Linked DNA regions of Homo sapiens: region 2 is linked to region 1. The links come from fine-mapping of genetic effects on gene expression. A gene starts in region 1. The other region holds a variant in brackets. All regions are shown on one strand. Distances are between the middles of the regions. Region 1 holds the start of LINC01559 (long intergenic non-protein coding RNA 1559). Region 2 has its middle 130 kb from the start of LINC01559.

Region 1 (12,238 bases):
CAAAAGACTAATCTTAGGTTCTACAATAGTGACGTTATCTATAGAAGCAATTGGGGAAGTCACAATCCTGTGACCTCTGGCCACATAGCTCCTGAGCAGTAAGTGATTACTGAAACTATGCCTACATTTTAGCAGAATTCAGGCCCTAATCTCATGGCCATTCATTAGTTTTCAGTCCCTGAGCAAGGAGAGTTAGTTTTGGGGAAGGATTTTTATCATCCTTGCCTTTAAGTTAAATTATAAACTAAATTTATCCCATGGTTGGCTTGGTCTACACGCGAGAAGGAGTGAACACAGCCAGCCTGTGAGGCTAGAAGCAAGATGGAGTCAGCCATGTCAGATTTCTCTCACCATCACAATCTTTGCAAAGGCAGTTTCACTAGTCCCAGCCCTGTTTCAAAATTTCACTTTTTAGTGAGCTAGGGATACAGAGTGTAAAAGGAATATACACTCTCCTCACCCCAAACTCACTAAGCCTAAAGGAAAAGTTAAGCTTGGAAACTGAGTCATGCAAAAAAACTGCCTTTGTATGTGTTCCTAAACAGGTATCTCCCCACCACGTAAATTAACAGCTTATCTTCTGGGTATGGGACAAAAGGAAAGCAGAAATCATTCCTCCACCCACCCCAAGGCAATACATATTTGACTTCTCCCTCTACTCTACGTTTATCTTATGTAAGGGACAGGTTTACTGAGAGCAAGATGAATACATAATGGATGGTTCCTCTACCCTCCTTTCACATGCAACATGTGGACTCAGTGAGCACTAATCAAAGCCTCAAAAGAATGTAGCCGCCGTCCTATTTGTGTACCCTGCTCTTTTTTTTCCTCTTTCCTCTTTTCCCTCTTGCTCACTTTTTCCACTTTAAAACAGAAGCCCTCAAAACCTGCTCTGAAAAAAGTGTGGGCCACAGATCCTACTGTGGCTTGTGTCTCTTTTGCCTGAGCATGTCCTCAACCTTCACAAAATAAACCTCAAAATTGAGACCTGTCTTAGATACTTTTCTGATTTATATAGAGGCTGCTTGGGGAAGCAGGCAGCTCCTGGCCTCTGACTCTGAAGGTCACATAGACTCTGCTATGGATTTTCTCATTGGGTTTATAGAGGAGAAGTTATCCCTGGTATAGGTATGTTTCAAGAGAGTAACATTTCTGTTTCTACCATTCATGGTATTCTTTATGTGCCAGGAATTTGCTAGATGTGGGGAAGACAGCAGGGAACAACAGTCTCTTCCCTCATGAAGCTTGAATCTCTTCATTTTGAGACTCTGTAATTCAATACAGAAAGTCCCTAACCTAAATGAGTTGTAGGCTGAAACAAAGCTTCTGACTTTAGGCAATTGTTTAATATCTGCTTTTTAATCTCATTTTGTCCAAGTTGACAGGCTTTGATGTGTGGACCATCAGCAGGATTGCAAAGTGTTAACAGATGGAGAGGAAGGACAGGAGTGGACAGAGCTTCCCTCCCAGATGGAGTGATTGATTGATATTTACCACACGGAGTGATAGAGCAGTAGATCACCATGGGATGACAGCCTAGAGCTTTAGCAGCAGGTCGACTTTGGTGTAAGTCCTGGCTCTGCCTCTTAACAGTTTCCGTAGGATTTAGTTTTCTCATATGTAACCTGGGCATAAGACTACACACCACCCGAGGTAGTTGTGACAGTCAAATCACAGGTGTACAGGTAAATCACAGACCAAAGCATTCAGCACAGTTATGGCCATGGTAGGCGGTAAATGGACCATAGCTGTTATCATTATTACACTGAATCCCCTTAGGGTTGCAAAGCACCCTTTCACAATTGATATCCTGATACCATTGAGGAGCACAGAACTCGTGTATTTGTCCATGATTATGCACAGTTAGGTGGTAAAATAATTGGAAGGACCTTAAAGATAAGTACAACTCTTAAATCTCTGATATTTTTCCCAAGTACCTCCTTCTAGGGTCTAAGCAGAACAGGGAGCTCAATAAACACTTGTGAACTTAAATTCAATTCAAAGAGTATTCACAGACCCCAAGCCTGTGCACTGAGCTACTGGGGCAGAGGGTTGGGAGTTCTCTGGACCCAAAGAGAACTGTATTGCTTTACAGTTCTCTTTGAGTCCAAAAGAATTAGACTGTGAACAACTAACAGTCCCTCATAGAATAATAAAATACATGTCAATATAGATCCATGAAATGAGTTGTGAAAACCATCACCAATTTTCTAATCCACCAATTAAACACACACTAGAGTAGTAGTAGCTTATTGAATGTGTATGATGTACCAGGCACTGCACTAGACAATGGGCTTTCAAAAATAAACATTGATATAGTATATTACTTCACAGAACAGCAAGAGAGACAAATGAATCATATAAGTCTAGTATAAATAGGTACAGTGAGAGAAATACATATAAGGCACATGAGTAAGAGGAATGAGTTAGGAAGACTTCATACATGAGGTTTAAAAGATAAGTAGGAGTTTCACAGATGAAGAGAGCAGGGGCACAGCGGGCAGACATAGCTGCATGTGCTAAGTGAGAGGTGCGCCCAACAGCTTAGACCTTTGGAAGAGGGGCAGGCAGATCACTACAGCTTCAGCTCAGTCTGAAAAGCAGAGAATGGTGGAATATGAGGTGGAGATGGAGGGAGGATGGAGATCATGGGCCCCCTATCGTGCCATGCTTAGGAACTTATGCTTTATCCTGTGAGCAATAGGGATCACTGAAGGGCTTTAAGGAGTGACAATCAAATTTGCCTTTTAAAAAGACATGGAGGGTTATTTGGACATGGGAAAGGAGACGAACTAGAGACGGAGAGACCAGGTTTCTGACTCTCCTGGAGCTATTGCCATGGTGATGGCAAGAGCTTGAACCAAGGCAATCGTAGTAAAGAAGGAAGGAAACAAGAGAGGAAGGGAGGGAGGGAAGGGAAAGAAAGGCAGGGCAAGGAAGAAGAAAGAAAGGAAAGTAAGAAGAAATGGAGAAAGGAAAGGGAATGGAAGGGAAGAGAAAATAAGGGAAGGGAAGGAAGGAAAGGGAAAGGAAGAGATGAAATTAAGAGATGTTTAAAAGATGGGATTCCAAGGGCTCAGTGACTGATAGGATGTGGGCAGTGGGAAACTTGAGAATGATCTCGATTGAAAGTGTGAAAGAAGGCCAAAGACAAGCTAGCATGGATTATAGAAGGCAGTGGAGCAGAGAAGGAGAAAATGGCTGTGGGGCAAAGAAGCACATGTGTTGTATGGAGGGTAAAAAGACCTGGGAGAGAGGTGTGCAGGTGTTTGGGATGAATGCTATCTCCATCATGGGTGGATAAACTGCCCCAGAACCTGTTTTGTGCAGTCACATGAGTGTGGACAGCTGTAAGAGCTTATCTTGGGTACAGGCAGGGCACAGTCACACTGTGTGTGCATGGCTCTCTTCCCCCTCTCTGTCACGCTTTCTAAAGACTCTCATAAGAACCCACTGTTGGCAGAGCCACATTCAGAAGTCAAACTTGGTAATTGATACCGTAATCCCCTGGATTCCCTCATTAGCAGCTGCTAATGGCTGGTGTGTTAACCATTCAATTAGGGCTCTAATAGGCCCATTATAAACTGCATCCATTCGAAGGGAACAGAAGAGCTGGGAGAGAAGACTGAAGCTGGCAGTGAAGATCCCTGACAACACCAGAGGCCTCCCACTGTCTCTGACTGGGGTGCCCTAGGTCTGGATTAAGCCAGAAGGCCTCTCCAGAAGGCCAGCCCAATGGCCAGATATTGGACTTCACAGAGAAAACAGTGGGCCTGGGATGGCCTCCAGCCAAAAATCTGGAGACTTTCTCTGCTGCAAAAAGAGCCTCCCTAGGTCTGGACATCCTCTGGTGATTTACCCTCTCCCAAACCTGTACCTGTAAATTCTGCTTTTACCTCTACTCTACCCAGCAACCCAAACTCAAAGGAATATTCAGAGCATCTGATTCAGAGAGATTGCCAGTGCAGCCACCTCCTCCAGCATCTGCCCTAGAGTCCTGGCCCATTTCCATCTCTCCAGCACGTTTTCCCTCCAAGATATTCTTTTTGGAGAAGAGAAAGTTTGAGATATGGACCTTGCAGAGTTATTTAGTCGGGTGAGGGTGTTGCCAATGCTGACCTTACACAATTCAAGAGACCCTGGGGAAAGTTCTACATGTGGCCCCCTTCTTGTGGTTTATGTCTCTATCTCCAGAGAGATCTGACTTATTAGAAACAAATTCCTCATCAGCAAAACTGGGATATCACTGGTAGCAGGTATCCCTCACTAGAGGCCAGCATATATTTTCCAGGACTCACTGGAATAGAAGTAATTGCAAAGATTCTTAACCAGCCCCTTAGTTGGTCAGAGGAAATGCAGGGAGGTGGGATTTACTCAAAAAATTGGTTCTGCATCAACCTCAAGACCACCAGGCTGCTCTATGTGTCACGTTATTTCTTTTATCCTTTATTGTTTTAATTCTCACTTCTGAAAAAATAATCAGATAACGTATATGCAAATATTCCATAAAGCATAAAATATCCTCTCTCTTATCTACCTGCCTTTTCAGGTCCTGCCCCCAGAAACCTCCCACAAGCCTTGGAGCCTCCAGTCTCACATACAGACCTTGATCTGACCTTGGGATCCACATTGCAAAGCCAAACCCATTTTCACACACACACACACACACACACACACACACACACACACACACACACCAAAAAAACAGAAACCAGGGAACTTAACCATACCACTTGCTGCTCTCCAACATCTTTTCAAGCCCTGCCTGTCTTCTTACCTCTGTTGTCTTCTATAGCTAGTGGGAGGCAGCTTCTCTGGGGTACTCTGTCAGACTCTGTCAGCATGATGCCTTAACTAGGCAATTTCTTATGCTTCCTAGGCCTAGATAACATAGCCAGCAATCCTACCTGCTGGGCCAGGGTCAGGAAACAAACTGAAGACACTGTGGAAGGCTTTTCTGAGATCACCTAGAAGCCAGGGCAAAGAATCAACAGAGAAACCAGCTGACTCTAGTATTGACTGTGAGTAGCAGAAAGAACACCAAACTAAGAGCTCCAACTAGTTCTGCTAGTTAGCTTTGGTTAAATCCTGTCTCCCCTCTGGAGTCATCTACAAAGGGAGAAGATTATTCTGATCGTCGTTTTGTGAGTGCCACCAGAGGAACAGAGAACTCCCCGCTGCCGCCCCACCTTTTCTGATAGCCCCAGGATTTCAGGCCTGCCTCCTGCCTTCCTATGTGTGGACAGAAATAGGCTGTAGGGAGGGCTAAGGCTGGGAACACACCCTACAGAGTCTAATACCTGCTTTGCCTCACAAACCATGTTAAATTAGAAATAATGCATAATCAGGCTGTTTTATCCTACCCAGAAGCTAGCAGAAAGAATTTGGCAAAAGCTGTTAGGAGGTCATAGGAGAGAACCATGTTACCATTGTTCTCAGAGGCCTCAAGAGAAGGTGGTGTGTTCTAGAGTTAGTTGTAACTATGCAAATGTGGTAGGCAGATTTCTAAGCAGGCCCCCATGCCGTTAACCCTATGATGTCATTCCTATGATTATGCTATACTGCATGTCAAAAGGGATTTGCAGGTGTAATTAAGGTTACTAATCAGTTGACTTTGCAATAGGGAGATTGTCCAGATGGGTGTAACCTAACAAGCTATAGAGCTTTCTTTAGCTAGTGGCAGAAGGGGAAGTGAGAGATAAATAAAATATGAGAGGGATTTGATGAGAAAGAGGTTCTCTATTGGTAGCATGGAGGGAGTTATAGGGAATGACCTCAAGAGAGCAGTGTCCAGAAGCCAGGAGTGACCAAGAGTCAATAACCAGCAAAAATCAGGAATTGCAGTCCTTCAACCACAAGGAACTGAACTGAACTCTGCTAACAACTTGAATAAGCTTGGAAGTGGATTCTTCCCGGAGCCTCCAGACTATAACCTAGCTCAGCCAACACCTTGATTTCAGCCCTGTGAGACACTGAGCAAAGAACCCAGCATGAGCCCACCCAGACTACAGACATCTGAGATCATAATAAGTAGGTGTTGTTTTAGCCATGATGTTTGTGGTAATTGTTAGGCTCCCTAAGTGTGGCTGCACTATCGCCAGGCCATTATGAACTCTGTGACCAACATGTACACCTCCAGAAGTGAACTCTGTGACTAGCACGTATACCTCCAGATAGCTCCCTGGAACAAAGAGGCCCAAAGCAACAAAAGAATGACCGCAAAGAAGAAAAACAGCAAGTTCCTGTTCCAGCCGGTTAACCATCCCTCCAAATCTATAACGACCAACCCCCAGCTGTAACCTTCTGTAACTTTCCACTTGCTACCCCAGCCTATAAAACCCCCTCTTCCTCATTCCTCAATGCTGACTCTCTTTTCGGACTCAGCCGGCTCACACCCAAGTGAATAAACAAGCCTTGTTGCTCACACTTAGCCTGCTTGGGTTGTCTTCTCAATTAAACACGTGCTTAACAGTTATTTGTTACACAGAAATCAAAATGTTAATATAACAAGTAACTCTGACCCTTCTGCCATTCTGCCTTTGCTGGGCATCTTGAATCTGCAGCTGGTTCAAGGGCTGGTATCTCAAAAGAGGAAATCCAGTTGTGATGGTTAATCTTTTGTGTCAACTTGACTGGGCTAAGGGAAGCCCAGGTACCTGGTAAAACATTATTTCTAGGTGTGGCTGTGAGGGTGTTTCCAAAAGAGATTAGCATTTGAATCAATGTGCTTAGTAAAGAGATCATCCTCACCAATGTGGGTGGGCCTCATTCAATCCATTGCAGACTTGAATAGAACTAAAAGGAAGAGGAAGGGCAAATTTGTTGGCTGCTTGAGCTGGGATATTCATCTTTCTCCTGATCTTGGACATCAGAACTCCTGATTCTCAAGCCTTTGGGTTTGGACTGGAGGCACCAGCTTTCCTGGGCCTCCAGCTTGCAGATGGCATATCATGGAACTTCTCAGCCTCCAAATTCATGTGAGCCAATCCTTTATTATTTGTATAATTATGGTATATTCATTGTATTATATCTATCTAATCTCCTATTGGTTCTGTTTCTCTACAGAACTCTAATACACCAGTACAATGGAAAGATTCCTAAATTCAAAAGCCAGAAGGCTGGGTTCCTGTTCCCACCCTGCCTTTTACCTTCTGTGTGTTCCTGATGAAGACACTTCATGCTCCACTATTTACTTACCTCTGAAACGAAGGGCTGACCCAGATCAGTTGTTCTCTGACCTGCTTGGAGGGACTCAGAGGCTGTGGAGGTGAGTGGGAAACAGGCCAGGTTCCAGGCCCACACTTCAAAGAGACAAGGTCTGCTTTGGACTGTTTTACACACAGGGCTTCTGAGTTTTAGATTTCATTAGAAGTGTTTCTTCTGCCAAATGAAATTTGAAAACCACTGAGCTGGGTGATTATTAGGACCCATTCCAGCTGTCATATTCTTCCAGCATGAAGATCAAGTTCAGCAGTGCAGCAGCTGGAGCTGTGGAAAGAGGTGGTATGAGTTTGGGCTTGAGTTAGTGGACATGGTAGCCAAATCAGAGATCCCTCTCTCATTCAAGTCATCTGTTGCTACCTGTTTGCTCTGGAGGTCTGAACTTCTGGGAGATAAATGTTTAAACTGACAGACTTCAGTTCAAATAATGACTCCACATTCGTATCCTGATATTGGGTAAATAAATAAATCTCTTAAATTCCCAGAGCTGCAGGTTCTTAGCCTATAAAATGATGACATCACCTACTTTGCCCAGTTATTGTATATACTAGTTAACATGGTCTAAACTGTGCCAATTGGAAGACCCAAAATGCAATGCCTTGAGAAGAGTAAAAGGTTTTTTCTCTTTCATGTAAATAGTCTAGAACAGGCCAGGTGGTGGGCCTTCTACTCCAAGCATCCTTCAAGGAACCCAGGAGATGCTAGTTCTATTATTTTCAGCACGTTGCTCACAAGGTTACTGCAAGGTTTGTATTCCAGCCAAGCAGGAAGGTGGGGCGGAGGTGGGGTGGTATGGAGGAGCCTATGAGCCAAGTTTCATGGTCAGGTCTGAGAGTGGCTCACATCACTTCCACTCACATTCTGTTGGTGAGAGCTTAGCCATACAACCACACTGAGTTCCAAAAGAAGCCAGAAACTAGTCCCTGGCTGGATAATTCCCTCCCAGTTAAAATTCTATTGCTTTGGGTGCGCTGAAAAGTCTAGGGTGGTTTCCACCACATTACACATAGAAAAGTGCTTAACACCTAGGAGCCTCCGGCTCAGCATCTCCACATAGGCCCAGCTCTGCTGATTAAGTGTGTTTCCATGTGGGCATATGCGGAGGTGGCCAGCACTATTCCATATCCTCATTTCAGGATTTTTCACAGCTGCTTTCAATCTGCTTCTCCTAAATGACTCTCTTTGGCTACACCTCGTTTTCCTAGAGTGAATATTTCCATCAGCTGATGCCCTTCTCAGGCCTCAATCTCCCCTGGTTTGCAGACTGTGGCCCTCCTTGGCCTCTGTGGAATCTGGCCATTTGAATCCTGTCAGCCCTGTTCTCCATCACCAAAGGACTCCGGAGGAACTGTGCCAAGCAGGCTGTCAGCCACGGGCAAGCTTTCTGAAAAAGACGTGCCAACTGCAGCCACAGAAAGTCCATTCCCTTGAATAACTTTGCTAATATTTGAAAATTAGTTCCCTTGCTCCTGATCATGCTACTGGGTATTTGGATATAAGAGCAAGGATGAGGGCAATAGAAAATTAAAATCATGTTCTACTCATATAAACTGCACAGATATGGAAGGGTAGGTCCTATTACCTATAATCCTGGGATTTTTAGACTCTCACTTTCATTGGACCAGAGTTGCCTTAGGGACAGTAAAAACACAAAATGCTGGGTATTGTTTTCATCAAGCAACTACTGATAGTGCACATTTAAATCAAAATTCTTCTAATCCCAAACTCAGTAAACAGATGCTGTGAGCTTAGTTCTGCCCCTCTGGCTTCAGATTTTACCCCACTGGATGTGCCCAATTCTGAGATGACAAGACGCTTCCAGCTTCCACATGGTTGCAATTTGGCTGTGGAACTGGCATGAAAGCACGTCACTGTGTCAGCACCTGGGCCACCAGATGAATAACCTATGAACAACAGCTTTGGACTAAAATATGAAGGGGTTGTTTTCCTTCAATCTCCCCCTACCTTCCTCAGAACCTGCTACAAGGAAAGATTTATAGACTCGAAAGCGTCAATGACTGATTAGACCCATATGATTGCTCCTGCTGTTTCTGATATTTTAAAAAATTGTCTTATAAAGAGATAAAAATAAATAATCAATGGAAAAACTTTTGGCATGGGAGAGACATTTAGGGAAAGAAGTCATTTCAGCCTCCCCCAACACACACATGCACACACACATACAGCCTATATCACACAATGGAGGTGAGGACCCACTCAATCTAGGCTCAGGACTGGCTCCATGGGACAGATGGGTGGGACAAGTCATCCTGCTGCAGTCAGGTAGCAGAGAGCACCGAGGAGACTAAGATGACAGAGACAAAATAACTAGAGAAAAGATACAGGAGCTAGGGGGAGAGGGTTGAGGTTTGACGAAGCTCTCTCTTCCCAGTAGGGGAGAGTTGGAAGCCACAGATGTAGTTACAGCCCCTTGTTTTCCAGATGAGGAAACAGGTGCTGTGATGTTAAGAGCCCCCAGTAGTGGTCCATGTAGCCAGTGGCCTATGTCAGCTGGGCTCTTACTCTCATGGGAGAGGTGCCACCTTCAAATGTCTGAGATCCACTGACCTTCTTTGAACAATAGCAGCTGAAGTAAGAAAACACCATGAAAAGCCCATGCCTCTTTAGCGCCATTTTCATATTGATGTTCCGTCTTCCTCCATGCAGTCAAAGGGCAACATTTTCTCTGCAACTTCCCAATTTTGCCTGATGCAAATAAAATGTGCTGCTCTTGTCCTTCTCTCCTTTTCCCCTTAGTATTCTTGATTTTCCCCTAGATACTCAAGTAATGCCCAGGTCTCAGGAATGTATAATCTCTTGCTTATCTCTAGCAACAGATTTGGGAATGAGGAATCGTTCCCTGGAAGAGTCAGAGCGCTCGTAGACACATTCTGCTGGATTGCACGAGCTCCTCCCCTGGGAAATCCACTAAGACTAGAGGAAAGAATTGCTTGGAGGATTCAGAGGCTGAAGAGTGGACAGACGGCTTTAATTGAGAAAAAGAAGCAGAAAATTGAGGAAGATGTGAGGCATCAATGCCAGCAGACGACATGTGACAGGTGCTAGCCACATGGATCACACTAAATTTCTGTCATTTATATAGATAAAAAAGAATTTCCAAAGAGCTCCTCCATAATTCAGCATTAACCAGCTTTAAATCATCACCTTTCTTTACCTTTTCAAAGCACTTTTATCTAGCTAGCTTTCACTTTCAGAGTGGCCAATTCAGGTGAGGATTCTCAATCCTGTTCTGCAGCTGAGGAACTCATGCTCAAAAGGGCTAAGAGTTTATTCTCTTACATCCAAACACCTTGCTTTTCCAAATCTTGTGCTCACTTTACCTACACATTTTGATTTTTCCAGGCTGATGACAAGTTAGACATGCAGACTCCTCAGGCTCATTCATAATCTGTATAGACATTACAGGTCATGCAAATTTAAGAAAAGGCTAAAAGGTGCCCGTTTGCACCCAACATGTTGGATAATGCCCCGGTAAAGTGGAAAATCAGTTTCCACAGCCTCGCTCTGTAGGTTTCCTTGGAATTGTAAAAGCATAGGACTCTGCCTCATATTTATTTCTATACGGCAATGAGGATATAAAGGAGCAGACCGAAAAGAGAAAGGAATTTTAAAAGCCATGGAAAGCTGCCCTAAATGTGGTTGGATATAGAGAGGAGAGTGCTGAAGGCAAACAGCTGTGCCCTCTTTGCCTTTTTGCTGAGGAAGGGGATTTAAGCCAAAAGAACACACGTAAACGTGGATTTCTTAAAGTTCTCACTGTAATTATGTAGCCTTGGGAGATGAGGAATTGTAAAGTAGATGCTGGCTTAAACAAATGATAAATCCTTGAGGTGATGGGCACCCCATTTTCCCTGATGTGATTATTACACATAGCATTCCTGTATCAAAATATCCCATGTAACCCATAAATATATATACCTACCAGTATATTTCTGTGGCTAATCTGAAAGCCACCTGCACCCTTGTGAAGACACCCACAGAGACTTCTGCCTCCCCTCCTACCCTCTGGCCTCAAGAGCTCCCTGGGCTCTCCTGTTGCAGGAGGGAGAGGGAGAGCTTCTTTAGGTTCCTGGTAAGGATCTCTGAAGACAATTCCTTAGGCTTGGATAATTCCCAGACATTTGCTAAAAAGCAGCATCCTCCAAAGCTTTAATTTGGATCACAGGAAAATGATGCTCCCGCCTCAGATTCAAACACAGTTTTATCTCACACTGCAAGCTCCCTGGCATGGGCAAAGTCCTCGATGCCTTTCCTGGTGGTTTCCAACATCAAGGACATACTTGTTCCTCCTCCTAGCTCTCTCCCTCAGCCAAGTCCTTCCTTACAATGAATTGTCCTGCAGAACTCCCTCTTAAGCTTGGCTTCTGGGACAGAAAACCTACTTTCTGAAAGGGTATGGGGACTGTCAGAGCATGAACTGGACTCAAGCTCCCAATTACAGAGCAGACACAAGGCTCTGCCTGCACCAGGCCATCCCTGGATTTCTGCAGCTCCAGGACTCTCTTCCAGCATCTAGATGCAGCTACTCTCATTCCAGCTTTGTGTCCTGTTTGATGCAAAATCTTTATTCCTTCCTGTTTCAATCCCTGTTGCATATTCTGTGTGACAAAGCAAGAAGCTGGAAATCGAGTTCTGAGCTTTATACCCAGCTCTGCCACAAATGTGCCATGACCTTGAATAAGTCACATGACTTATCTGGACCTGGATTCTCTCATCTGTAAAAGAGGAAGCTGAGCTATACTACTTTTAAAATGTCTCCAGCTTTAATTTTATTAGAATATCAGCTGCTTCCTCCTCTGGTTTCTCATGGCAGGTTGTGCATTCTTCTCTGGAGACACCAAATTTCATTGGAGTATCTCTCCTTACAAATGTATTTCCCCACTAGATTGGCCCCTCAAGAACAAGGATTGTATTTTAGTTACCTCTGTTATCTCTGTACCTGGGGAGGAGTGAGAAAAGGAGAGCAGGAAAGGCAATGGTATAGTACCAACATTTG
Region 2 (12,238 bases), 130 kb before region 1:
CCCCCAGTATCCTCTACCTGCACCAGCTTTCCTTTGGTTTCTCAGATTTTCAAGCTCATGGCCACCTTTGCCCTTGCTGCTCCTCTGCCTGGGATGCTGTTGCAGCAATCATCACAAGGCTGGTTCCTTCTTCTTCAGATCTCAGCTTAAATGCCACATTCGTGGTAAGGCAGTTTGTGGCTACATCTAAATTAGGCATTAGATGCTCTATCATTTCACTTCAGTATAATCCTCTGCATGGCACTTTAATGTATTCTTTTTGTGTGATTATATTCTCCTCCCCTACCCACTAGAAAGTGAGCTCTGTCCAAGCTTTTCTGACCATTCACCACTGACTATACCACGTGTGCCTACAACTGGCACATTCTAGAGATTAAGTAAATTTCTTGTTGAATAAGAAATGAGCTAAGATAGCTTTTGGGCTTCATAATTTAGCTATGAGGGGCCAGTGATGTGGTTAAAGGGGTATCATTTTCCACCCCTTCAGAAGGCCAGCCTCACCTCTTAATAGAACCCCAGTCCTTCATTCCACCGCATGTCCTCCCTTCTCTCCCAGCACTTCTCACCTGCACTGCGTCAATCGCCTTCTGATAACACTCCCTGTCCTCTTTCTTTCCCTGATCCAATCCATTCTACACATCACCACCAGAACTCTTGAAATTCTTTTGTCACCATATTGCTTTCCTGCCCTAAATCTTCACAAGTTTTCCACAGCTTACAGAATAAAGTTCAAAATCTTCAGCCTGAATCAAAGAATCTTTTACAATGACTGTGAAAGCTGCCTGTGAATATAAAAGAAACACCAAATATGTGTGGTCCAGCAGGTGGGACACTCTGAGCTGAGTTATGTCTCCTTTCCCTTCATAACTCAAGTGATTTTTTAAAGATGATAGCTGAAATTCAATGTCAAATGACCCCAGATAGTAGCCACTGCCCCGCCCCCAACCCACAATACCTGAGCAAGGCTCCACAGTAAGTATCACTACAGGTATCTGAGCTGAAGCCAAGCACATATGCACATCAAAATGCTTTTGAGAGTTTCACAAACACAAGGTTCTTCCCAAATCAATTTGAAAGGTTTACCAAGGCTCTATGATCATTTCTTTAGTAAAAGGCTTAGGTGGTTTTTGATGAGTGGTCTAGTATGTGTACACTCCTCCTTATATTCTTTTGATTCAAACCAGTATGGACAAGTTGTTCTGAATACTAAATGCACATTAGAATAATATGGGAAGCTTTAAAAAGAATACCAGTGCTGGAGCCCCACTGCAATTGAACTGAATCAGTGTCTCTGGGCTGAGACCCAAGCACCCAGGTTTTACAACAACTGTAAATCTATGACCCACTAATCGAGACATAAAATAGAATGAACTTGCAGGAAGGAAGACTCCAGGGAATCCTAGCACTTCCTAAAATATTAAGAATCAAAGTTTAAAAAACTACGTCGGCCAAGGGGAGGGCAAGGGGGGGGGGGGATAGGGAGATGACTAAGATAATTAGCATAGTAGCTGATATTTGATAACATATGATGCCAGTCACTGCTCAAAATGCACTAACTTACTTATCTTCACTGCAATCCTATGAGGAAAGTATTATTGCTTATCCCCATTTTACAGATGAAGAATCCGAGTCATAGAGAGAAGGTTAAGTAATTGCCCAAGGTCAGCAAGGTAAAGCTGTGACCTGAACCCAAGAAAGCTGACTTTAGAACCCTACCTTATCTGCCACTAATAGCAGCAGCATGCATTTACTTAGGCCTTATTGAGTACAAGGTGCTCTTCTGAGTGTTTTATACATATTATCTCACAAGACTGTTGTAAAGATTAAATGAGATAATATGTATAAAATACCTAGAACAGCACCTTGTACTATTAGTCTATTATCTCCAGTTTACACATAAGGACACTGAAGCACATGTGGGTTAAGCCACTTGACCAAGCACTCTACCAGGAATGGGAACTGGGAACATCCTTTGCTGTCCTCCTGGAGCTCCATGCTGCAGCTGTTCTCCTGGGGATAAGGCAGGTGCACTCAAAGTTTGCCTGTTCTCAAGAAAATTATTGACAGCTTCTTGGTGCTACCATATTCATTCTTTATTTTAATTTTAAAAGCCTGAAAGCCTGCTTATGAAGGTGTTAGGGAGCCCACAGCAGATGTTTGATTAGTAGTACACATGGGGTTGATGGGAGCAGGGTCCCCTCAGCCCCTCATAGAGGCAGAATTCCCTAGCTGGGAATTCTGAAGTGGATCTTTCTACAAGAAGCCAGACTGCATATGTATCAGACAAAAATCGCAGGCCCTTACCAAGTCCCCTCCTGTGGTTCCTTGGTCCCTCCCCATCCTGTGTGCCAAGTTCTCATGTGCCTCATGTGCCTAGTCCTCATGTGCCTCATGTGCCTAGGACAGGCTGCTCATAATGCTCATCAGAGCTCCTCGAACCCTCCTCCTCCTTCCATTAATATGTACCTTCTTTTCTATTCTAAAACTGCTCAAATGGATCAAGAAAGTATAATTTTAAAATATCCAACCTCTGTCCAGGAGAGTCTTTTTTTTTTTTTTTCCACCTAGGCGGGAATTCAGTGGCACCATCAAGGATCACTGCAGCCTTTACCTCCTGGACTCAAGCAATACTCCCACCTCAGCTTCCTGAGTAGCTGGGTCTACAAGCACCATGGCTTTGAGGGAAAGACAGGAATTAATAATGGAAATTAGAGGTACCTTGGTCAAGTTGAAAAGTTTATATTCAGTTTTACAGGCAAGAGGGAGCCATTGCTGGTTTTGAGCAGAACAAAGTCGTGGGTCCTACTTTAGAAAATCGATCTGGCAGTGATACGTAGAATGAATTGGAGCAGAGAAAAGAACAGTTGGTTGGAACATGGTGCTGTGAAGCCAAAGGCTTGGGAACGTTGGCACAGATCATGCGGATTCATCAGTACAAGCCATTCTTGCTGCTAAAAAGCCGGTCAAAGAGCACATCTAACTGATGGATTTGTATTAGGAGGACAGCACTTAAAATATGTGTCTACTCTGAGCTGCTTTTATCTTCAGATACCATGTTAGGAAAAAGCTTCCATACCTCTGTCATTACTGAGTTACTAGCCTCCTTGGTGCATTAAATCTTCTATTTTCAGACCTGAATGTCCTGGGCAAGTAACTCTATTTCACAAGGATGGGGATGCTATTTCATCTCTCTTTATGTGATGCAGGGCTGGATCCAGGCAGAACTTTCTGCAGAACCCTTCTGTTACCACCTCCCCCATGATTTGTCCCTTTCCTCTCCTTGCTTACTTTATCCATCTCTGACCCCACTCCAGGACACTCTATCCAGCAGAAGAATGATCCTTTCTCCCTGCCCATCCCCCTCCATTGTGGCTGACATCTCACCACCTTGACCCAAGCATTCACTTGGGTGACATTAGCTGTACTTTGATCTCTGACTCTGGCACAGTGACCAACAAATTTAGGGGCAAATAATTTCAGAAGCAAAGAATAAAAAATTCTTTGGCTGTGTTTATGAGTCACTGTGGCTGCAGGAATCTTCAGCTCTGCAGAATTCTGTATTTCCAGTGTTTTATTTCTAAACTTGAATAAAGCCAGGTTAGGCTACTATGTTCTAGTTCATGAACTTCTCCCATCAGACAGGCTGGGTAGAGATAAGAGAAATCAGGGGATCTTGTTCCTATGAGAGGGACTTTTCTGACCCCTTGGCCAAGTTTTGCCATGATCTGCAAGTTCCACCATCTCTGCTGTTGAACGTAGTGTTAATCATTCTCACGGCCCGCTTAGGTTTTGATCTGGGTCCTGAGTTTACGCATATTCTTTCGCAGACACACAAGGGTAGGAGGACCTCAATCAAATCCTGCCAAATTGTGGCTACTGTGTATTGTTATGGAAAGCAGTACAGGTTACAATCAATAGTTTGGGCAACTGAGATTTTCTTAATGATTTGGGGGATAAAATTGCTGACTCATTATTCAGACTGCAACCTCCCTTCCACTGTTACCCCAAGAGCAGCGAATTGGGCTTTCAGAATTTTCCTCTGCCAACTGCGCACGTCAAGAAGGCTCTGAGAGTCACTTTTTCCTTCCAATTCTTTTTGTTTTTCTTTGCTGAAAATCACCCTGTTTCTCTTCCTTTCTTTAACTTGCTGACTTCTCACCCTCACAACACTCTGTTCCTTTTAGAGTATCCCCTATCTCAGCCAATGGTAGCATCATTTACCCAGGAACCCAAGGTAAAATCCTGGAAGTTATCCTAGACTAGTGGTTCTCAAACTTGAGCTTGCATCAGAACTAGCAGGGCTTGTTAACACACATACTGCTGAACTCCAGCCTCAGTGTTTCTGATTCAGTAACTGGTTCACAAGGTCTGGGGTTGCCCCCAAATTTGCATTTCTAATACATTCCTATGTGTTGTTGCTGCTGCTGCTCCACCTATCACACTTTAAGAACCACTGTTCTAGAAACCTGCTCTTTTCCCCTTTCTTCCTATACCACAAATAACTAATCAGGTTCCATTGATTTATGTCTCCAACTTAGTCTATCTTCTCCCTGGAACTACTGTCCTAGGTCAGGCCTTTGCCATTCTTTCTTAAGCTCTTGAAATCACCTGTAAGCCACACCTCTCTACCTCCAGTCTTGCCTCTTAAATATATATAGCTAGTGAAACGATCTCTCTAAAACACAGATCAGGCCCCATTTTTTCCTTAATGACAACCCTTCAGTGGCTTTTACGCTACCAACAGAACAATGGTTAATTTCTTCAGCATGGCAGGCAATGCCCCTTGTGACCTGGCCCTGTTTACCTCTGCATTCTCATTTTGGCACTACCCCCGTGCTAACCAAGTGCTAAAAGTCCCCAGCATACAGCATGCAGTTTCTTGTTCTCTCAGACGCTGCC[A/G]TTTTGTCTAGACCTGTCTTCCTGTCTGTACATCTTGGCTATTAGCTCAGCCTTCCATTGTCCAGATACCCTTCCTTTATAATCCCCATAGTGACTGCAGTGACCCCACGCAGCTCTCCCAGGGTCCCCTAGCACATCTCTACACTATTTCTGAGCACATTATATTGAAATTTCCTGTTTGCATGTCCTCTTGTGGCAGGAAATTTATCAAGTTTTATCTCTAGCACCTAGCTCAATGAATGCTTGCTGAGCTGAATTTCCTCACCAAAATTCCTTCTCCCCTTCTCCTGGTACTGGGCCTGGCTCTGCTTTTCCCCTACACACACTTCCCTCTTGATCTTCACAGAAGAGATTAAAGATCTCAGAAGGGCCAGTGATGGCTGAGATTCAGCCCACCGGCAGCATTTCTTAGTCACTCTGTGAAGTCTAGTTATATTTTCTCATGCATCCTTAATAAAACAACAGCTCTACTTTGCACAAAATCAGCCTTTCTCTTCAAAGACTTTAGGGAGCTTTACAGCTCTGGCTATGATATCCTAAGTGGAACACTGTGTGGTAAGGAGAGGCCAAAAAGAGATGAAAGTGGCACATTTAAAGGCCAAAACCCAAATCAAATACATTTCTTGTGCTGTGTTTATGAGTCACTGTGGTTACAGAAATCTTTAGCTCTGCAGAATCCTGTATTTCTAGTGTTTCATTTCTAAACTTGAATAAAGCCAGGCTAGGCTAGTGTGATGTTCCAGTTTCTGAGCTTCTGACCTCAGACAGGCTGGGTAGAGATAATAGAAATCAGGCACAATCCCAAATGAGAAAATGTTTCATTTGCCTCCCCTTCCTCAGGTTTTGTTTTAGCTTTCTGAGTAGGAAATTACACATTCAGAGAAAGATGCCCCTAACTTCTTAGCCATCTATATGATGTTAATAGATGAAAATTTCGATCCTAAAAATGTGAATGGGAGAAATTGTTAAGATTGGGTAGAGGCTAATGTAATATTCGGGATTAAAGTTTTTAAGTAGGCAAGATGAATAAATTTTGGAAATTAATCAAACAACTGACAATGTTTCACCAAAGTATTTTATGTGTTTAATATACACTGTGCACATTCTCCTACAGGCATATGCAAATGTATAAACTTAACATATTAAATAGCAGACTAGGGGATGAGAAGCACTTTAGTGTATAAAATATTATTATTTTCATTATTGTTATAGCAAACTTGAACACTCTTTACTGGAATCATTATTTGCTTGGAGAAATTTGCTGAGTTTGGCAATTTTCCACTGTCATTATGAATTTCTCTTTGTCAGGCAGCAGGGCCTCTGGAAGAGAGAAGGGTAAGTAATTCAGACAACTGGTTAGAAAAGAATCCTGTTTTTTTTTTTTATCAGTTTCTTTGGCCTGAATGCTGAATCTTTTGGCCATGAATTGTCTGAACCACCTGTCCCACACCGTCCATTTCTGAGAAATAGTCACTGCATTCTTCTCTAGGTTGTCAGAGGCTGAGAGGACAATAAATGGAGATAGCCAAGGATTCTTTCCAGCAAGAACTGTCTTGATCTATAGGCATCAGAGATAAGAGAAGCCCTGGGTGCTTTGTTCTAACAGGCTACTGAGGAATGATCATGGGTGCTGACCTTGAAATGCTGATGGAAACTCAACTCAAGTTGTGACATAGCAGTCTGCTTAACCAGCAGGGCAGAGCATTTCTCCAGCGCTCTTTCAAGAGGACTGTTAGTTGCATCCTGGTGTGCAGACTCAACCAACAGGAGGAAGAATAGACAAATAGTTCTTGTTCATTGCTGTTTTGGGGGCCCTTTTGAGTTAAGCTTAGTTTTGTTTTCTTAATGTCAAATCTGGCTGCTACAGTTTTGTATATGGTCATCTCACTTTCTAATTCTAGGTTTGCAAACATGAATGAGAAAATATCCAGCCAAGTATTTGGTGCTATCTGGCTTAGGAGCCATTGACCCAAATAACTGGTATCTCACAATGTGGATGACAAGGACCATAAACCAGCAGCACCCAATCCACTTGGTAAGGGTTTTTAAACAATGGGGTATAGTTATTTTTACTAATGAATATTTTACAAATAAAAACATTTGTGCTGACCTAGTTGAAATTTGGCAGATGTGACTGTTCCAAACTCAGCAAAGGGATATTAAAATAATGAATTCAATAAAGGAGTGTTACTTTCTTAATTCAAAATTGTTTATTAACTTTATTGGTATTTAATTTTTTTCCTTTTAAAATTAATTCCATTTAGTTGAAAGGTCAGAATTATGGTTCTCTCTATATTGGGGCATATCACCCTCACCAAATTATAGACACACAGGTTAGGCCACAATTGGGCAGTCTTTCTTGCTTGAACTGTAAGAGGCACAGGAATTAACACCATTGTATTCATGAGAAGAAGTAGAAGAAGAGGGAAAGAACATTTGTTTGGAGTAACAGTTACATTAAAAAATCTGAAGCTCCATAAATCACAGAACATTTAACAAAGAATCTGACTTTTCACTGCTTTACCACTCCCCTTCACCCCATCTATTTCCTTTGTGTATTCTAAATTAGGATGTATTCCAACAGTTATCATAATAGCTCTCATTTATGCACCCCTTGCATTGCGCTACTTATTTTATATATATTTACCTCTTAAAGCCATAAAATAATCTTATGAAATGTATCATGTTTCAGCCCCATTTTACATAAAACTGAGGCACAGAGAAGCTGAAAACCTTGCCCAGTATCACAAAGCTAATAAGTGAAGGAGTCAAGACTTGAATCTAGGTAGTTCGGCCAAGAAGGGATTAACAAAGTGCCACTATTTTCCTAGCCATAGTGCAGTATCTCCGTTGGCCAAAGGAAAAGGGGGAAATTTGGATCCCCCAGATAGGATTAAATAGTAGAATTGGTCAGGTTCCCAGACTCTGGGGGCTGTGGCCATAAGTGATCTCTCTGCTACCCCATGCTCAGAAAAAGGAAATGACCAGTCAAGACAAGAAATGCTTGATTCTAATAGGGTGTGGTAGTCTCTTCAAGACGGTCCTCTGAAATCCCCACCTCCTGGTAGTCATACTCTCATGCAGTTTGTTCCATTTTGTGGCAGTCATACTCTCATGCAGTCTGTTCCATTTTGTGGCAGAGTTGGTCTGGGACCAACAGCAAATGGCAGAAGTTATGGTATGTCACTCTCAAGGTAGATTACAATGGACCGCGGCTTCTGTCTAGGTTGTTCTCTTGTGTGTGCTCAGATTGTGGGCTTTGGGAAGCCAGAAGCTGTATCACAAGGACATTCAGGAGCCTATGGAGTCACCAGCCTGAGGAGGAGCTGCAATCTGCAGCCAATAGCTAGTGAGGATCTGAGGTCTGCTGACAACCATGTGAGGGAGCTCAGAAGCAGATTTTCCAGCCCCAGTCAAGCCTAGAAATGATTGCAGCCTGGCCGAAAACTTGATTAGTCAGAAGCACTTAGCTAAGACACTTCTGGATTCCTGACCCTCAGAAACTGTGAGATAATAAATGTTATTTAAGCTGACAAATTCTGGAATAATGTTGTTATTCAGCAATATATAGCTAATACATAAGGTGTGAAGAAGCAGTTATATAAGTTAGTATCGGTGCCAGGGGAAAGGAGGACCACTATGATCTGAGGAAGGAAATGGGTGTCCAAATGCAGGAGTGTGGCCCCACTGTTTAGAAGTTGCATCTGTGTGAGTCTCCATGGGAAATAAGGTATAGAACTCAGTAAGGATCCAGCTAAGACACATGGTAAATTGTGCAGGTGCCTCTCAGTTTTTCCTCATTTGCAGGATGTGCTGTATTGAGGTGGGAATGAGCTAAGCTGTGACTAGGAAGGCCTGTCTGTGATCCCTGGAGAAAGCACTATTGACTTACCAGCCTCTGCAGTCCCTCAGTTAAAACAGAAGCTTCAGAACAGCAGGGACAGCTGAAGTGGTTCTGCGCCACACCCAGAGAAATCAGTCTCAAATAAGATCACCCAGGGCCCACTTTACTCCAGAGGAAGAGTGGAGGAAGCATGGGCACCTTCGTCCACCTTGCAGAAAGCACTGACCTGGATTCTGAGGTGCGGCCCTGATCCCAGGAGTATTTGTTTCCCTGGACAGCTGTAACAAAGGATCACAAACCTGGTGGCTTAACACAACACAAATTTACTCCCTTGCAGTTCTGGAGGCCACAATTCCAAAGGCACAGAGTCAGCAGGGCCATGCTCCTTCAAGGGTGCTAGGGAAGAATCCTCGCTTGGCTCTTTCAGTTTCCGGTGGTTGCCTGCATCCAGGGCTCTCCTTCCCTCGAAGCTGCATCACTCCAATTTCTGCCTCTCTCTTCATGTGATGTTCTCTTCCTGTGTCTGTGTCTCTGTGTCCAAACTGCCCTACTCTTAAAATGATACCAGTTGTATAGCATTTGGTACCTACCGTATCTTTTTTTTTTTTTTTTTTGGAGACGGAGTCTTGCTCTGTCACCCAGGCTGGAGTGCAGTGGCACAATCTCAGCTCACTGCAAGCTCCGCCTCCCGGGTTCACGCCATTCTCCTGCCTCGGCCTCCCGAGTAGCTGGGACTACAGGCGCCTGCCACCATACCCGGCTAATTTTTTGTATTTTTAGTAGAGACGGGGTTTCACCGTGTTAGCCAGGGTGGTGTCGATCTCTTGGTACCTACTGTATGCTAATGTGATTATGTCTGCAAAGGTCACATACAGAGGTTCAGGTGGAGATGAATTTCGGGGAGACACTAACGACACTGACGTGATCGGTTCTCAAATATACCTCCTCCTTGTCATTGATTCCTGGCAACTGTGGTCCTGGCAACTTCTTCCCTGGCTCCTTCCACAGACTGAGCTTCCATTTCTCTGATCTCTGCTTACCTGCCTTCCCAGACTCCCTCTGCTCATCTCTCTACCCAGCCAGAGGTGCAGAGCAGACAGTCAACATGGCTCTGGTCTAGAATTGAGGAGAACAAGGATATCTCCTTGGGCTCTGTCGTTATGGTGTGATTTTAACTTCCGGGGTGATCAGATTTTCTGTCTATAAGATGGTTAGGTATCTGTGCTACATCTGTTATGACTAAGCAGTATGTTGGTTACACACAGTCCCTGAGTTCCATGCCACCAGTATTATTGGAGAAACTGGCTGTCATCATTCAGTATTAGCCTCTTCTTTCCCTTCAACAGATTAATATTGCTAACCTATTGCCTCTCTTTTAGATCTTCCTATTTTTCCTCCTGTTTAGCCAGATCCTGGTAAGCACACACAGGTTCCTGGCAGAGAAGTGACCCCGACATCACCACAACCTCCCACATCGGGAGACTAGAGCCTCTGGTCCAGCATCTTTCACCTCACAGAAAAGCATGGCCTTCACATTGAGGGAGGATTCAAATGTCTCCCAATTCTTCCAAACCCTGGCTTACGGACTCTCGTTTCCTTTCTGAAAGGCTCTGAGCTCCCGGCTTCCCACTGGCCCTTTTAGCCATTCCCTGTCCTCTTCCACCAACCCCCACTGCCACCCTCCTTACAGAGTATTCTGTCTCTGAGCAGAGCCTGCCAAGGCTGAGCAGGTTTGAAGGAAGCTCACCATAGCCCAGCCATGGATGGGGAGCATGGGGAGGGGTGGGCAGCCCAGCCTGGCCTGTGCAGGCTATGTGGCTGCACGGCTGAGAGTTCCTTGCCTGCAGCCTTCTCTCAGCAGGCTCCCCTCTGTGAGAAGCCCCTGACAATGTGTTCCCATTAGAGTGAGGTGTGAACCTGAGCTCTGAGTTCCAGCCCCGAAGCCTCAGGGAAGCAGGGAGAGCAGTGGCCTGTTCGTTTGGGAGGCCACACACTGCTGTATTTCCAGTTTTATTTCTGGTGTCTGGTCATTCCAGGTAACACTAGGGTGGGAGGACATCACATAGCTGACAGTTCACCTCCTCAAGGAGTAGCATCTCCACCCCAGCACAGGCTCAAAGGGCCAAGGTCAGACTGCAGAAACGGCAAGGAAAGAGAGCCAGGGACGCGCCTGGACTGAGTGCCCGCAGCACTCCACCTCACAGCCTTCACTATCAGTCCTAACTGGAAATGGCAGGTTATTCTCTAGTGAGGCAAGGAGGAGAGCATTTTGTTCACCTTCTGTGAAAAAGAGAGGAAACATCTGAGAAGAAAAAGAGAATGATTTGCCAAGTCATTTGCCTGAGGAGGAAGTGGAGCTCAACAAGATGCAAAAATTCTTCCTCGCTCCTTTAGTGTCACTTGTGGAGAGCGTGTCCCTGACTGTGCAACTGTGGGTCCCAGCACTGCAGTCTGGGAATGCTTCGAGTAGTGGCAAGGCAGCCAGGAAAGACACTCTGAGGGAGGTACAGGCTCCAGGGTGTTCTGAAGGGGAGACAAAGATGTAACCAGTCCACGTGACTGATGAGAGACTCAAAATTACGGTACAGGGAATAGGAGGTGGGGGCTGAGTCCAAACCTCCCCTCAGGATACAGGGCTTGGTCTGAAGACTCGCTGGAGACCTGTGTCTGGACCAGGAGCCTGTCTAGCAATAACCGAGGGGACAACACACTGCTAGGGATGAGCCAGGCTGATGCACCTTCCAGCTGGGAAGCACTGAAAGATACAGAGATGCCACTCATCCCTCTCAGTTCTGCTTCCCCCCATGGACCTTACCAGGGACTCTGTATGTATAGCACAGCATGCAGTTTACCTGTTTGTGTGTGATATGCCTCCCCCAACCATAGTGAAAACTCCACAAGGGCAAGTTTTTTGGTCCATATTATGTCGGCACCTGGCACACAGCAACACTCAATAAATATCTTTGGAATGTATTAATAAAGGAGGCCTGTAATTGTGAGACATGACAAATCATCTTTTTGAGCAAAACGTAAGTAAGGATTGCATACTATTTTATTTCTTTACAAATTCACTAGTATCTGGTGTTGAGGGCAAAAAGGTGTTTAAAAAGAGAAATCCAGCAATCCAGGAAAAAAAAAAAAAACCAGAGAGCCAGAAATCCAGATTATAACTTCGTTTCTCAGTGCCCAAAGTAACTAAATTCAGCCTTTACTCTGAAACTTGAAGAGTCATTTTGCTTCACAGAGCACCACTTCTAGAAGCATGAGGCATTTGATATCACTGTCTCTGCTTCCAAGGATTTATAACTGAGAATTTCCTATGTTAAACCATATAGATAAGCTTGATCAACAGCATCACTGGAATCCAATGATCCGTAGTTCATTGGTTCTAGACACACTTTTTTTTCATATTTTACAACATCTAAAACCAGATTGTTTCTTACCAACATGGTATATTAGAACCTCAGGAGGCTGGCAGGCCTGGTGACATTGTTA

What was found.
Region 2: its variant is fine-mapped to the expression of LINC01559 in nasal epithelium (TOPMed, PIP above 0.99).

What each region holds. Positions count from the first base shown.
Region 1 is chr12:13,371,253-13,383,490 of GRCh38, reverse strand. LINC01559 (long intergenic non-protein coding RNA 1559) reads left to right here and starts at 6,746. Exons shown (of 3, transcript NR_036555.1): 1 at 6,746-6,977; 2 at 7,066-7,267; 3 at 10,053-12,238. RefSeq lists an enhancer at 6,944-8,143.
Region 2 is chr12:13,497,565-13,509,802 of GRCh38, reverse strand. No RefSeq gene overlaps it. Among named protein-coding and RNA genes, the nearest start is that of LINC01559, 130 kb to the right of the region's middle. RefSeq lists a silencer at 8,141-8,341, a cis regulatory region at 10,579 and enhancers at 10,495-10,664, 10,173-10,672, 10,673-11,174. The variant A/G (reference allele first, on the strand shown) is at 4,900.